2 separate regions of the Homo sapiens genome follow, and region 2 is linked to region 1. The links come from fine-mapping of genetic effects on plasma protein levels. A gene starts in region 1. The other region holds a variant in brackets. All regions are shown on one strand. Distances are between the middles of the regions.

Region 1 (8,521 bases):
TATAGGGTTCGGTACTAGCCATGGTTTCAGGTATTGTCTTGTAACGTATCCTCACAGATAAGGGGGACTACTGTATATACAAGGGAATATTATTCAGCCTTAAAAAGAAATGATACATGCTACAATATGGAGGAAGATTGAAGACACTATGCTAAGTGAAATAAGCCATATACAAAGGGACAAATACTGTGTGATTCCACTTATATGGGATAACTAGAATAGTCAAATTTATAGAGCTAGAAAATAGAGTAATTGCTGCCAGAGCTCGGGGGAGGAAGGAGTGGGGAGTTATTGTTTAATGAATATGGAGTTTCAGTTTGGAAAGATGAAAAAGTTCTGGAGATGATGCGCGATGGGGGTTGCACAGCAACGTCAATGTACTTAATGCCACAGACCTGTATACCTTAAAATGTTTAAAGTAGTAAATTTAATTTTACCACAAAAAGAATACAAAATTAATAATAAAATTAGTGACAAAAGTGAATATCTATTTAGAACAAGAAAATGATTTATAATAAATCAAATATTTTACAAAGTTAAATATCAAAAATATCACAAAATCTAAAAAACAATATTTCATATTCAGCCACTGCCAGACACAATCCTCTAAGAGCTTTTATCTATATTTTAATTTCATAATTCTGGATTATCTCTTCATATAGCAAAAATTTTATATTATTTTCTGTAGAGAGAATAGAAAGATATTTCAGTCTTATTTCAAGCATGGTTGATTAAAATTTTTGTTTGTTCTTATTAATACTGGGATTCATAAAACTTCACACACATTTGAAGTACTGCTATAGGTTTGTGTCTTAATACACAGGATTCTTTAATTTTGTACTATTTTCATCAAAAAAATTTTGTAACATATGATGTGGTTTTAATCGTACGTAAGACATTATCAGATACATTCCTGAGAGAACCTGTCTTAACTAGGTTTTCTGGTCAAATTCTAAAACCAAATTCTCTGCCTGCAGCTTTACACACTGGATGATTGAAATTATTTTCCCTCGATTAGCTCTGTCTCTGTGCATTTCACCATCTGTTTCTCTTCAATAACCTACAAATTTCTGAACCTGGGAGCCATTAGGAAGCACACTTTCACTTTTCAATATGACTTCTGGCCCTGCATATTTGTTTTGGCATAGTGGATGCTACCCTGAATGGCTAGCAATAAATTATCAATATACAGAAATGACTGATACCCACATAAATATGACCCACTAAAGCCAAACTAAAATTATTCTCAACTCAACTTTCCCCATTTGGGTCTCAAAAATGCCCACAGCCCCTCCAATACCACCTGATACAGGAAATATGATGCCGTACAGTCAGAGTAAAATGATAATGGGGTTGACTGATTGTGGTTAAATATCTTTTGCAAATTTTATATAAAACATATGATTGTGTGAACACATTTCTTGTGCCCTTCTGGGATCTTGGAAGTAAATCAAGCAATGAATGGTCTTACAGCTTAAGCATCATTATTTTTACAATATTGCCACCTCTGCCTAAGTCTGTCTCACTCCAACATTTTTGCTTCTCTCCACTGTGCTATTCCACCTTAGATAATTGTAAAACATTAGGACAAGGGCAATGAGAGAAACCTAATTAGACAGGAAGGACACACTAAAGAAAGACACATGAAACAGCCTGGAAAGAAGGCTTCGGAGGGAAGAACTCACCTATCGCATGCTGGCCTGTCCTGGCATTGCACTGTTTTATTTTATGTATTTTGTTACCACTTTCAGAAAATTAACAGCACAGCTCTGCCCAACTAGCACATCTAATGCCATGTGCCACCCACCCGCCCTACACTGACCAGTGGTGCCATAAAATACCTGTTTTTTTCCTTTTCTTTTGAAAAAAAAAAAAGATTAGAACAAATAGAAAGATTAGAACAAATGTTGGCATGATAGAAACAAGGAATAAAATAGGCAGAAACATCCCAAGGGAAGATCTACATGCTCTAAATGAGTTTGTGTCTCTTGGAGAGGAATAAAATCCAGAGCACGGAGAAAGTTCAGATAAGATGGATGAACCTCAAAATAACTCGAGGTGCAGTGAAGACTCAGGCAGAACAACTGTATCCTGGCACATGCTATCCCAAATTTCAAAAATAGAATGGTGGATGTAGGTGAGCTATAGATCATGAGCTTGATGCAAATGTAGGTAATATTCTGAGATACAGTATTCAGTAGATAGTGTTAATCACGTAGGGAATGGTCAATAAAATGACAAAAGGATTCTTGATATTGAACTGGATATAAAACATGTAAAAAGCAAGTTGACTCCAATCAGGCAATAAAGAGATTGAATTCAGTCGAGTAGTGAATAATATCCTATAGAGGGAATTTCAACTATCAAATTACACAGTTATAAGTTATAAAAGAAGCTGGGCATGGTGGCTCATGCCTTTAATCCCAGTACTTTGGAAGGTCCAAGCTGGTGGATCGCTTGAGGTTAGGAGTTCAGGACCAGCCTGGCCAACATGGCGAAACCCCATCTCTACTAAAAATACAAAAATTGGCCGGGTGTGGTAGCGCATACTTGTAATCCCAGCTACTCGGGAGGCTGAGACACGAGAATTGCTTGAACCGGGAGGCAGAGGTTGCAGTGAGCAGAGATCATGCCACTACACTCCAGCCTGGGTGACAGAGTGAGATTCTGTCTCAAAAAAACAAAAAAGTTATAAAAGAGGTAACTTTAAAAATTGGGTAAGGGGGCCGGGCACGGTGCCTCACACCTATAATCCCAGCACTTTGGGAGGCCGAGGTAGGCGGATCATCAGAGGTCAAGAGATTGAGACAATCCTGGCCAACATGGTGAAACCCTGTCTCTACTAAAAATACAAAAATTAGACGGGCGTGGTGGCACATGCCTGTAGTCCCAGGTACTCCGGAGACTGAGGCAAGAGAATTGCTTGAACCCAGGAGGCAGAGGTTACAGTGAGCTGAGATCACACCACTGCACTCCAGCCTGGTGACAGAGAAATTGTCTCAAAAATAAATAAATAAATAAATAAATAAATAAATAAATAAATAAATAAATAAAACTAGGTAAGGGTACACATGATATACTAGACTGCATGAAACAGTGTGAATTTGGAAAGCTCTGTTACCTCAAGGAGATGCCCAGCAGATTGACTTTCGGGTCGTGTAGAGGCACCCTGGGCATGTGTGGTACCTAATTAGGTCCCTGACCCTCTCTCAAATTCTTTAACTGACACTTCAACCCTGGCCTTGATTCTCTGATACAGTATCCTCAGCCCAATCAGATCATACATCTATCTATTCTCTTTATTTGCATAAGTGGATTTACAATACTGGGAGAAGAGAGAAATAACTATAAGAATGTTGAAGTTAGTCAAATCCACAATATTAACACATTTGTATTAACTTTAGAAATTTAATTATTTAATCCTTGAGATAACCTATGAAAGATTGTTTGTTAAGTTACTTGAAGCATTTAATATAACCTGATATATTAGAAAATCAGATATATGAACCATATAATTTCAATTTTAAAGTACAAGAGCATTTTCTTCAGTCTATACACAGTGTTTGAATGTTTAAGAGAACATAACTTACTACTGCATAAATTTGGTTTATTACTTTTACTGGAATTGCTTTAATTATTAGAGCCCCCTCCCTCCTTTTATAAACTTGCAAGATGTATAAAAGATACTAATGTGTCAGGCATTTGAAATGCTTGAGAGATTCAGGTAGACTAAATTTGTAATTGATATAATATATAATATTTAAAGGAACTTAATTAACCAAGTCTATCAATTGCATTATTTGTTTAGGGGAATTAACGTCAAATTGAACATTAGTCATGGAATAATTTTAAATGGTAATTTATATTGGCTGGGCACAGTGGCTCACGCCTCTAGTCCCAGCACTTTGGGAGGCTGAGGAGGGCAGATCACCTGAGGTCAGTAGTTCGAGACCAGCCTTGCAAACATGGTGAAATCCCCTCTACTAAAAATACAGTAATTAGCCAGGTGTGGTGGCATGTGCCTGTAATCCCAGCTACTCGGGAGGCTGAGGCAGGAGAATCACTTGAACCTGGGAGGCAGAGGTTGCAGTTAGCAGAGATGGTGCCACTGCACTCCAGCCTAGGCTGCCAAGTGAGACTCTGTCTCAAAAAAAAAAAAGGTAATTTATATTATCCTTTTCAGATTTACAGATTTACAGAGATCTGCTTGATAAATATAAAAGGTTTAGAAAAACTATAAAGGTTTTTTAAGCTTTGCAGCTTTCATTCATTGAATAGTAATTAAGATGTAGGTAGGACTGTATTTTACAAGATTTAAAGATTCTTTTGGCAGTCGGATAAAACACTTCAATGCTCAGCTAGATGAAAGGCAGAAGTCTTTGTTACTTACAGCTCTGAATGAGAGAAGGCTGCCACAGAGGACCACGCAGGGGGTTGCACCTGAGGACTGGGTACCACAGGCTGGAGGGGGAATGGGCAGCTTATGTACAGCAAAAAGGGTGGGGTTAGCTAGGTTGAATAATTTTGAATAATTTGCATAATTTTGGCGGGCTTTGGGGCATGGGCGCTGTCCTTAATTGTCTGATGTCTGGCCCTGTGGTGATTAGAGTGGGTACATAGTGGCCCCAGAGTGTGAGAACCTGATAAGGGAAGTGGTTGGGGTGTGGATTTAATCAGCTGCTCAAGAGAGGAAACTGACCAGCCTCTAGCCAAGGCCTCCATACTAGGTCAAGACAGCACAATAATCAATAAAAATACCATATATGAAATATATTTAGTCACTGATTCCTTTATATCTTGATGTCGATTTTGAACTCAATTATTTGGGGTGTTTGAGTGGCCTGAATAGTAGAGGAGACTTCTACAGAATAGGGCCTAAGTTGCACTAAACAGCATAGAAAACATTTTATTATGACAATAACAAGGAAGAAACCAAGTAGAAATGTGACAAGTCCCTGAAGGCTGACTCGTAACCAGGCTCCCATTTGTTTGGCGTTGGCCAGGAGAATACATCAGTCATGGCAAGGGCCTTTAGTCATATTTTGACTGGATTTCAGAGTGTGTTAAATATGTAAGGCATGTTTTTTTAGGGTGATGGTTTTCTGATCCAGGCTTTCTGTTAGAATGACCTCTTGATTGGTGGTGTTAACCCACCTACAACAAGAAGCTCTAATAATGTTACAAACACCTCTTTGACTAGTTAATATATAATCAAGGACAAATTTACTGTCAAAAAACATTTTTGCCAAAGCTCCCTGGTTTAGCAGGACTAATATTTGCTGTAACTTAGAAATATGATATACTAGAGTTTTGGACATTTGTAGGGTAGCATCAATTATTTTTGACTGTTGGGCTAAAGCAATGGTCCTTGTGGCCATCGCAGCAAGTCCCAGAGCAGTGGTGAGTCCCAGTATTATAGGTACAAATGTGGCACATCAATGACATTTGGCTGGGTAGGGAAAGAATAATTAACATTTATATAAATAGGAATGCCAAGAGAGGCCAGAATGCATCTCGTGGCTTCCAGTTTCAGAGTAATGGAAGGGCAAAGGAGAGGGGATAAACACCCTTGTTGGTTGGGACACAATATAGTTTTGTGGCATTACCATTAGACTGGAAAATTGTACCTTGATTTAGGTAAAGGGAAATTACTAAAGAATGGGACTGGAGGAAGACAGTGGCTTTTGTTGGGCATATGGTGAGAATATGCAGTTGTTCATTGGGTAGCCCATCTGTGGTATGTATTGAGGAAATACGAGTGCAGTTGCCACTTGCCATGAGGGGGCACCCCAATACAGAAGAAAAGGCCGTTTGGAAGTGGTTTTCATTTCTCAGTATTTTTCATCTCTGGGGCAATTATCAGTTGGGTAAATGTGTGATGTGGGATATGTGGAAGCAGGGTGATGAGTTATGGATAGTCAGTGCAGAAGAGCCTACTTCAGTCAAATGTGTTTGTATTTTGGATGTCTGTATAAATATCAGAGAAGCTGGGGCAGTGGGTTTGAATTTTACTTACGTAGTCTTTTAGAGGGCAAGAGGAGAAGATGCTGTTAGGACGGAAAAGATAGGGGTGGGAGTAGGGATACTGACAATGAGAAAGGGAAGGCGAGGAGGATGGAAGGGAATAAATGGTTTGACAGTCGGAGACCAGCAGATGCTCCTTTTACTCCTAGGAGAGCACACAGGGTGGAATACTTCAGTCAGGTTACCCTTTAGGCAGGAGAAGTGGGTGGGATTAGCAGGAACCTGAATCTTAGAAGCATTAGGGAGGTATTGGACTTGGTCTCATAAGGGCTAAGCCAGGTATAGAGTGGAATTACAATCACAGAGAGCAGAACTTCGAGTTTTATAGGTGTCTGTAAAGTCTGGAAAGTTACTCCAGTGTTGTGGGTCTTGCTTTTTTAAAACAGAAGTCAGCAGTGTAACCAGCTACTGGAAAACCAAGAGCCTCTGGTCTCCTATGAATGGCAAGACATTCCATGTGCTAGTGTAGTTGGCACTGCCCATAGTTGGTTGGGAGGCAGGGGGCATGTCATCTTTAATGGCATGGTCTTGAGCTAGGGCAGTGTCGGACTAGGGTATCCTTCCCACATGGATACCCACTAGGGTTGATGTGGGCTGTATTTTTGTGACTCTGTGGTGTTATAATGGGGCTGAGTCATTTGTAGAATTTGAATACAATGTTGGGTCCTGGGAGCTTGATTCACAAATGTCTTTTAAGTCAAAGGCTTTGTGGGTGCACAGCTAGCAAAGATGCTGGCATCCAGAATACTCCTATAATTGGACCAAAGTGCCAGAATCTGAATGGTACAATCAAAGTCTCAATTAAAGGCAGCTAAATGTCCCTACAAAGGACAGGATCTTGTTCCTTTTTATGGTGGCGTAGTATTCCATGGTGTATATGTACCACATTTTCTTTATCCAGTCTATCATTGATGGGCATTTGGGTTGATTCCACATCTTTGTTATTGTGAATAGTGCTGCAATTAACATACATAAGCATGTATCTTTATAATAGAATGATTTATATTCTTTTGGGTGTATATACCCAGTAATGAGATTGCTGTGTCAAATGCTGTTTCTGGTTCTAGGTCTTTAAGGAATTGCTACAATGTCTTCCACAATGGTGGAACTAATTTACATTCTCACCAACAGTGGAAAAGCACTCCTATTTCTCCATAGCCTCGCCAGCATCTGTTGTTTCTTGACTTTTTAATAATCACCATTCTGACAGGTGTGAGATCATATCTCATTGTGGTTTTGATGTGCATTCCTGTAATGATCAGTGAGGTTGAGCTTTTTTTATGTTTCTTGACCACATATTTGTCTTCTTTTGAGAAGTGTTTGTTAATGGGCTTTGCCCACTTTTTAATGGGGTTGTTCATTTTTTTTCTTATAAATTTGTTTAAGTTCCTTGAAGATTCTGGATATTAGACCTTTGTCAGATAGATAGATTGCAAAAATTTTCTCCCACTCTGTAGGTCACCTGTTTGCTCTAATGATAGCTCCTTTTGCAGTGCAGAAGCTCTTTAGTTTAATTAGATCCCATTTGTCAATTTTTGCTTTTGACATTTTTGTCATGAAATCTTTGCCTATGCCTATGTTATGAATGGTATTGCCTGGATTTTCTTCTAGGGTTTTTTGTTTTTTTTTTTACTTTTGGGTTTTCATTTAAGTCTTTAATTCATCTTGAGTTAATTTTGTGTAAGATGTGAGGAAGGGGTTAAGTTTCAATTTTCTGCATATGGCTAGCCAGTTCTCCCAGCACCACTTACTAAATAAGGAATCCTTTCCCCATTACTTGTTTTTGCCAGATTTGTCAAAGATCAGATGGTTGTAGATGTGCAGTCTTATTTCTGAGATCTCTATTCTATTCCATTGGTCTATGTGTCTGTTTTTGTACCAGTACCATGCTGCTTTGGTTACTGTAAACTTGTAGTATAGTTTGAAGTAGGGTAACGTGATGCCTCCATCTTTGTTGTTTTTGCTTAGGATTGTCTTGGCTATATGGGCTCTTTTTTGGTTCCACATTACTTTTAAAGTAGTTTTTTTCTAGTTCTGTGAAGAAAGTCAACGGTAGCTTGATGGGAATAGCATTAAATCTATAAATCACTTTGGACATTTTGGCCATTTTCATGATATTGATTCTTCCTATCCATGAGCATGGCATGTTTTTCCATTTGTTTGTGTCCTCTCAGATTTCATTGAGCAGTGGTTTTTAGTTCTCTTTGAAGAGATCCTTCACTTTCCTTGTTAGCTGTATTCCTAGATATTTTATTCTCTTTGCAGCAGTTGTGAATGAGAGTTCATTCATGATTTGACTCTCTGCTTGTCTACTGTTAGTGTATAGGAATGCTTGTGATTTTTGCACATTGATTTTGTATCCTGGAGCTCAAAGCCATTATCCTCAGCAAACTAATACAGGAACAGAAAACCAAACACCTCGTGTTCTCACTTATAAGTGGGAGCTGAAAAATGAGAACACGTGGACACAGGGAGGGGAACAGCACACACTGGGGCC
Region 2 (8,521 bases), 150 kb before region 1:
GGCAGAGGTTGCAGTGAGCCGAGATCGCGCCATTGCACTCCAGCCTGGGTGACAAGAGTGAAACTTCATCTAAAAAAAAAAAAAAAAAAAGCAAAGAAACCACGATCTGGGAAGTTGATGCTTCCATGTCTTTGCAGTGACCATAGCTAGGAAATACATGCATGTGTGTACATACTATTTGTCTATCTACCTATCTATCAGTATTCACACGGCACATCAACTGTATTTATTTCTATATGTACACACCATGAGTTCATGCTGATATCTCTAATTTCATTTGAATACCAAAGGTTTTAGTTTTCTACCATTCCATTGTTGTCATTTTTTCCTGGCTCCCTTATTTGAAATATATGTACTCATTTGGTTCATCTTCCTGTATGTAACCAGTCTTCTTTCACTGTTGCCACCTACTTCCCCTACCTCCATGACATGCAGGTGTCCTCCTTACCCCCATGGACTCTCATCCACCTGGGCTGCGGCCATCTTCATGTGCTGCCACCTGAATAGGTGGTTTCCCCACCCTGTTCACTCTCTTGCTTTCTGTGGGCTGATGCCGTCTCTCTCCTCCTTATAAGACCTAATGTCTTTTAGACTTAAGAAGGAAGGAAGGAAAAAGGAATAGAGAAAGGGAGGGAGGCAGAGAAGCAGATAGCAGAGTTTGAGATTTTATTCTATAGGCAACGAAGGACTTGTCCTCCTCTCCACACCCCACCCGCCAAAACACACATGAGATTGCTTATTGTAGGGAATAATTTTGTTAGCTGCATGAAAGTAGCTTAGAAGAAGGAATGGTTGCAGGCAGGGAAGTAGTGGTTCAGGAAATAAGTGATGAAGCCGAACGAGGAGATAGATATCCTTAGATGACTGTGCACCCACTATGGCTCCTCTGAGCAGCCAATGCATGACAAACAGTCAATAAAAATTATATGCAGTCTGCATTTCCGTGTAGTTTCTTCATGGGTCAAATAAATATTAGAGCTACTTTCCAATGAAATTTTTATTTCTTGGCCAGGCACAGTGGCTCATGCCTGTAATCCCAGCACTTTTGGAGGCCAAGGCAGGAGGATCACTTGAGCCCAGGAGTTTGAGACCAGACTGGGCAACATATCAACACCTTATTTCTACCAAAAATACAAAATTAGTTAGACACGGTAGTGTGCACCTGTAGTCTCAGCTCCTCAGGAAGCTGAGGTGGGAGGAAGCTGAGCTTGGGAGGTTGAGGCAGCAGCAAGCCATGATTGTGTCACTGCACTCCAACCTGGGTGACAGAGCAAGACCCTGCCTCAAAATAATGAAAGAAAAAAGAGGAAGGGAGGGAGGGAGGAAAGGAAGGAAGGAAGGTAGGAAGAATGGAAGGAAGGAAGGAAGGAAAGGAAAAGAAATCTACATTTCTTATGAGGAACCGATCAGATGAACATTTTCATGATTGATTGTGGAAATGGGGAATCTTTTTTTAACCCCCTAATGACAGGAGCATTTATTTCTAGACTATAAATGAAAATTTATGACACAGCCTATATAAGAAAATGCAGCAGAATAAACAGGATCCACCACCTTTCTCTCTAGGTCAAATTCCTGGAAATATCTGGAGGGTAAGAACCAGTGAATGAAAAGAGATGGTTAATGCTTTGCAGTGAAGGAAAAGTGACTCGCATCAGTAGATTACTATGAAGCTGCAAGAGGTGAGTCACAGGCTTTAGCTTTTCATGGTATGGTTTCTGTATTCAAATACCATGTTACTTTTATGCATGCTTTTCTCTCGTGCTCTTTTCAGGGCCCAGAAAAAAAAGTCACCTTGGATTTCCATTCATGAATACATACTTCTGTGACATAGGAGGTGTGAAAGAAGCATTTGCTGAATGAAATAAAACTTCCTGAAATGTAAAAATAGGCAAGGGTTTGTAGCCATACACTAAAAATTATTGTAAAGCACTGTCACTGTTAGCATGGCCAAGATATACCTAGAAGAACACTTTTCGTCTTCTTGTAGCACTGCTTCTTGGATGTGATAGGTGCTCCACAAATATACTATTAATTTAATTAAGCAAATTTGATTTAGAATAATCTCCTGGCCAAATGCCTAGGGATCTTGAACCTGAACTAATTATAGTCACAAAGAAGGGCTTGCATTTGAAATCTTCGAGGGTTAAGAATGGTCAAATACATGTCACAAAGACAATAAAAATATTCCAAGGGCATGCGTCGTACTTTTTCACTCTTTATGATACTTGGTTAAAATGCAAGTAATGGTTAAAATAGAGGAACTGTGAAATATTTAGCAGGTGCATATTTAAAACTCAGAAAGTTGGCAAAGGCAAAGAAGGCAGTGTGCTATTAAATTTAAAAAAATGAAAGGATGCAGTGCTTTGTAATTATCAAGTTTAATTGATAATGTAAACTCTCAACTATCTAAGTCTCAACTATGATTTTGTGTTTCAGTTGAAAGTGTTATTTTCAGAGTTTACACAGACCAAAGCAGACAGTCAAAAACTGAGAGAATGCTTGAAAGAGGTGAAGGAGTGGGTCTTGCAGATATTTAGGGGGAAGGTGCTCCAGGCAGAAAGGCCAAGAGCAGAAGACAGCGTGGCATGATTAATGAACAGAAAGCAGCACGGCTGAAGGGGGTCACATAGGGTTCTGCAGGTCATTGCAAGTACTTTGCTTTTGTTAGTTTATTCTGTCTTTTGTTTTGTTTTGTTTTTGTTTTTGTTTTTGTTTTTGAGATGGAGTCTTGCTCTGTCGCCCAGGCTGGAGTGCAGTGGTGCAATCTAGGCTCACTGCAAGCTCTGCCTCCTGGGTTCACGCCATTCTCCTGCCTCAGCCTCCCGAGTAGCTGGGACTACAGACACCTGCCACCACGCCCAGCTAATTTTTTTGTATTTTAGTAGAGACACGTTTCACCATGTTAGCCAGGATGGTCTCGATCTCCTGATCTCGTGATCCACACTCCTTGGCCTCCCAAAGTGCTGCGATTACAGGCATGAGCTGCACCTGGCCCATTCTTTCTTTCTTTAATTATTATTGTTATTAATTTTTGAGGCAGTGTTGCACTCTGTTGCCCAGGCTGGAGTGCAGTGGTGCGATCTCGACTCACTGCAACCTCCGCCTCCAGGTTCAAGCGATTCTCCTGCCTCAGCCTCCTGTGTAGCTGGGACTACAGGCATGCACCACCATGTCCACTAACTTGTATTTTTAGTAGAGATGGAATTTCTTCATGTTGGCCAGGTTGGTCTCGAACTCCAGACCTCAGGTGATCCGCCTGCCTTGGCCTCCCAAAGTGCTGAGATTACAGGTGTGAGCCACTGCCCCCAGCTTTTTTGATATATTTCTTTACAATCTTTTTTTCTAGGCATATATACTATATTGCTTATTAAAATTTCTGTGTAGATACTATTTTATAATCTATATATATATACACTTTAATAAGTAGTTTGGAAATATGGCATTTAATGTCTTTCAAAAATTATATCATTTTGATATACATAAGTTGTTTTAACCCTTTTCTTATCATTATCACTTCTGTTGTTTCTAGAGCTTTTTTCTGTTATAAATACACTGTAATTAACATCCGTTTGAATAATCTTTGACAGAATCTCTTAATATTTTCTCAGGCAGCGTGTCTATCAATAAGATCTAAAGTTATGAATACGCTTAAAATTCTTGATTTAAATTACCAATTTTTTTCCAGAAGATCATATATTCTACATTTCTACCAATAGTGTATGGACATGGCTGTTTCGCCATATTCTTATTACACAAATTGTTTATACATTTTTGGTGGGTTTTTTTGTTTGTTTTTTTGTTTTGTTTTTTTTGAGACAGAGTCTTGTTCTGTCATCCAGTCTGGAGTGCAGTGGTGCAATCTCAGCTTACTGCAACCTCCGCCTCCTGGGTTCAAACTATTCTCCTGCCTCAGCCTCCCGAGTAACTGGGACTACAGGCATGTACCAGCACGCCCAGCTAATTTTTGTATTTTTAGTAGAGATGGGGTTTCACCTTGTTGGCCAGGCTGGTCTCGAATGCCTGACCTTGGGTAATCCACTTGCCTGGGCATCCCAAAGTGCTGAGATTACAGATGTGAGCCACCACGCCTGGCCACTCTTTTTTTTTTTTGAGACAGGATCTTGCTCGCTTTGTTGCCCAGGCTGGAGTGCACTGGTGAGATCACTGCTTACTGAAGCCTCCATCTCCTGGGCTCAAGCGATCCTTGCACCTCATTGAGTAGCTGGGGCCACAGGATTGTGCCATCACACCCAACTAATTTTTGTATTTTTTTTTTTTTTTTGGAGACAGGGTTTCACCATGTTGCCTAGGCTGTTCTCAAATGCCCAGGCTCAAGTGATTCACCCACCTCAGCCTCCCAAAGTGCTGGGATTACAGGCATGAGCCACCGTGCCCAGCCTGATACGTTTTTAGAAGCAGAAAAAATTTGATTAGGAAGAAAGGGCATACAGATTGTTTTAAAATTATACATCTTTTGAATTTTGTTTTAGGCTTATAGTATAGTGGAGTATTTTTTTGTGTCTGTGAAATTAACTGATTGCTTAGGAGTTAAAACTGACAAAACTTAGAGGTGAAGAGAAAAAGAGAAAATCAGAAATTAATGTGACTATGAAGTTTCTGGTTTGTGCATCTGGTGGATGGTGGTACCATTGGATGAGATAGAAATGTGACAGGGAAGTTGGGACAGGGAAAAACTGTATAATTCCATGTGAACAATTTAAGTTGAAGTCATTGGATCTAATTCAGTAGATCTAGAGCTGTGCCGCCAGCATAATAGCCACTAGCCTCATATGGCTATTGAGCTCTTGTAATGTGGCTACCCTGAATTGAGATGTGCTGTCAGAATAAAATGTACACCAGATTTGGAACTCTTTGTAAGAACAAAGAAGGTAAAAGATAAATGATAGTATCAGTTAAGATCCAATCAGGAGACAAATCACACAGTAATTTGAACAGGGAAAGTTTACTGTAAAGAATTATTAAGTATAATGGGGCAACTATAAAGATGTAAAAGATAACTCTAAACAATATCCCGAGGCTAAGGAAGTTTCTAATGAGGGACAAACTTGGATGCCAGCCTCCGTTCCAAAGGGATTCAGATCACTGGAGAAGATACGGTTGCAACCCAGTGGATGA[CAG/C]AGAAGTTTGCTGGGTTGTCCAGGTCTGAGCTGGTCCACAGTTACTAGACAAGCGAGAAACAGGGTACAGGTGGGCTAAGACTGGTGTGCAAGACTACAGGTATGCAGAGGGACTCAAAGCATTGGGAACAACTCTGGCTGACAGATGCATAGCCTAGAGTGGACAGTGTCCATGTCAGGAGGCCATGGGAAACACTCTTTGGGGTGCAGGCAGACTAGGGCTGGTGGGCAGGTATGCAGAGGGAGTTGGGGCATCTGCTTGCCAATAGGGTGGCATGAGGCCTGGAGTATGTGGGGTTTGTTTTGGGAGGGGCAGTGAGGTGGTCACTGGGTTAGGGCTAGGGTTGTCAGCTTACTGAGAGACTGCATACTCTTGAGTGTGCTGCTGGGCCGGAGTGCCTGGATGTCTCTATACACGGCCACATGTGGCTGCTGAAAGCAGCCCAGCAGGAACAAGAATAAAACAAAAAACACAGCATTCAGGAACCAGGAAGAGAAGTTCCTTTCTCCAGCAATGACCTTCTACTGAAGAAAGCTTAACATTATGCTTGCTGCAAAAAAGAAATGCTTAAAGCTTCATTATCACAGAGCTGGTAATGCAGGGTAAAATTAGACGTGAAAGACAATAAATTGATAACTGAAACACTCATTAATTTTTATTTATTTTATTTTTTTTGAGACAGAGTCTCACTCTGTCACCCAGGCTGGAGTGCAGTGGCATGATCTCAGCTCACTGCAACCTTCATCTCCCGGGTTCAAGCGATTCTCCTGCCTCAGCCTCCCGCGTAGCTGGGATTACAGGCACCCACCACCATGCCCAGCTAACTTTTTGTATTTTTAATAGAGACGGGGTTTCGCCATGTTGCCCAGGCTGGTTTCGAACTCCTGAGCTCAGGCAATCCGCCTGCCTCGGCCTCCCAAAGTGCTGGGATTTCAAGCATGAGTGCATTAATTTTTTTTTTTTTATTGACTAATGTTGAAATGATATTTTTGATGTATTAGGTTAAATAATATATATCATTAAGAATAATTTCACTTTCCTTTTTAGTTTTTAAAGTGTACCTAGTCAAAAATTTAAGTAACATATATGCTTAGCACTTGGACAGTTCTGGAATGGATGTCTAAGCTAGGTAGATTACTTCCATAAGAACTGATGGAAGGGCCTAGGAGGAGAGTGTAGAGAGAGGAGAGATTATAGGCCCCAAACCCCCAAATTTAAAGGTTGGTGTGATGATTAATTGTATGTGTCAATTTGGGCCATGAGGTGCTCGGATATTTGGTAGAACAGTATTCTGGATGTTTACATGAGGGTGTTTTTGGAGGACATTAACATTTCAACCAGTAGATGGACTAAGGCGGACTGCCTCCCTAAGGAGCTGGGCCTTATCTAATCAGTGAAAGCCTGAATAGAAAAAAAAAAAAAGCTGACCCTCTTCCAAGTAAGGGAAACTTCCTTCTGCCTGATTGTCTTTGGGATAGGGCATCGGCTTTTTCCTACTCTAGGATTCAAACTGAAACAATGGCTTTACCTGGGGTCTTGAGCCTGCTGGGCTCTGGACTGAAACTACACCATCAGCTCTCCTGGGTCTCCAGCCTCCAGCTTGCCTACTCACTCTGAATATCTTGGGACTTGTCAGGCTTCATAATGAAGTGAGCCATTTTTAATAATAAATCTCATTTTCTCCCTCAATACGTATACATGGTTTTGGAGAACCCTAACTAATACATAATACAGTTGAGTATAGAAAGAAGAACCCAAGGAATTCCAGAGAGCATGGGTGGGTAGCAAATGGAAAATGTAAATTCAGGAAGAAAGTTTCCTGCTAATGAGAAGAAATTCCAGAACATGTTAGTATGCTGATGGCAATAATAAAGAAGAGTGAATGGAGTTGGCAATGGAGGCTGTAAGGGATAAAATATTATATGTTTGGCAAGAGTGCAAGGTTTTGCTAGGCACATAGGGCTAGTGCAGCAAGCTTTCAGTAGTGAAATGGTGGCAACCAGGTCAGAATTTCTTGGAATGAGGGTAAATCACACCTTCCTCGGTGGTGAGATGGGGATATGGGTACTGCTTTTCATAGAACAAACTGTCCGGCCAGGGGGATGGTGGCTCACACCTGTAACCACAGCACGTTTAGAGGCCAAGGCAGGTGGATCACCTGAGGTCAGGAGTTCAAAGCCAACGTGGTGAAACTCCGTCTCTACTAAAAATACAAAAATTAGCCAGGTGTGGTGGTCCATGCCTGTAGTCCCAGCTACTCAGGAGGCTGAAGCAGGAGAATCACTTGAACCCGGGAGGCGGGGGTTGTGGTGAGCTGAGATTGTGCCACTATACTCCAGATTGGGCAACAGAGTGAGACTCTGTCTCAAAAAAAAAAAAAAAAAAAAAAGGAACAAATCTTCCTTTTCTAGAGGACAGAAAGGAATAGATAAACCTTACAAGAGCTGATGACAGAATGCCGTCATGCCCCTAATATCGCTCTGTGGTTATATTTCAAAGAGTTGACAGCAATAGAATGACATTGACTTATTCATTCTAGGCCAAGGAACTACTAAATTCTTTAACAGCCGAATTACTTTGGCATGAATTATCTGGACTTTTCAACACTGATCTGATGTTTATACAAGTGTATTTCCTTTCAAATAGTCTTGATGCTTCCTTTTTCTCTTTCACACTTTACCTACTTTTGTAATATGCACAAATAAGATATGAAACACTACAAAATAGGGTGTAGATAAATTTCGATTAGAAAACTGTATAAAATTAAACAAAAGAACAAAAATGTAGAAATTGGGTTTTAGCAATGTGTTCTTATCTGACAATATAGGACAAAGAAATGTTTGGCTCTAGTTTCCGAAAGCTATCATTGGAGAGGTGACTGGGGAAGAGATTTATTGAAGTTATCCTTTCAATTTTGGTCTGAGAGTCCTCATCTTGGTGTGAAACCTTGGTCACCTGAGAAAGTCCTTTAACCCTTTTGAGTCTCAAATTCCTCTTTGGGAGATTGCATTATGTAAGACTAACCTTAGGATAACCTTAGGAATAAGAAAATAAAGAAATCGAAACCCCATATAGTATCAGCTCCATAAAGTCAACAATCTCCACAAGCTATCAAGTGATAAGACATTCTTGTGGGTAGTACATCCTGGTTGTACAAATCACAGGACTCAATGAATAAAGGAAGCTGGGCACAAATTGGAGAGCATCTTGGACTTGGGACTCTGCAGACTGGTGCTATGTCCCTGACTGTGTGGCTTGCCTCTCTAGGGGACTGGGGAACCTTGCTCATCTAAGTTTCGTGCTTGGTAAAAATCAGATGATAATAGCTACTTTGGTTCACATTTAGAGTTTTTAAAAATAATACCTGGGGGCTGGGTGC

Alleles and levels. Positions count from the first base shown, and alleles are read on the strand shown. Strength reflects both the effect of a copy and how common the allele is.
As copies of CAG replace C in region 2, the plasma level of the protein whose gene starts at base 4,458 in region 1 goes up (weak association).

What was found. A credible set is the group of variants that fine-mapping cannot tell apart. PIP is the posterior inclusion probability: the model's chance that the variant is causal. The UK Biobank Pharma Proteomics Project read protein levels with antibody pairs (Olink). The fine-mapping took linkage between variants from a reference panel, not from the people measured, so its PIPs are less certain.
Region 2: its variant is the best candidate, but not a certain one, in a credible set for the plasma level of the CA1 protein (UK Biobank, PIP 0.80).

Annotation. Positions count from the first base shown.
Region 1 is chr8:85,373,656-85,382,176 of GRCh38, forward strand. CA1 (carbonic anhydrase 1) reads right to left here and starts at 4,458. Exons shown (of 8, transcript NM_001128831.4): 1 at 4,391-4,458. RefSeq lists a promoter at 4,486-5,277.
Region 2 is chr8:85,228,519-85,237,039 of GRCh38, forward strand. LOC124901969 (a long non-coding RNA gene) reads left to right here. Exons shown (of 4, transcript XR_007060985.1): 3 at 1,567-1,682. LOC105375936 (a long non-coding RNA gene) reads right to left here. Exons shown (of 3, transcript XR_929126.3): 2 at 449-592. Among named protein-coding and RNA genes, the nearest start is that of RBIS, 12 kb to the left of the region's middle. The variant CAG/C (reference allele first, on the strand shown) is at 5,140.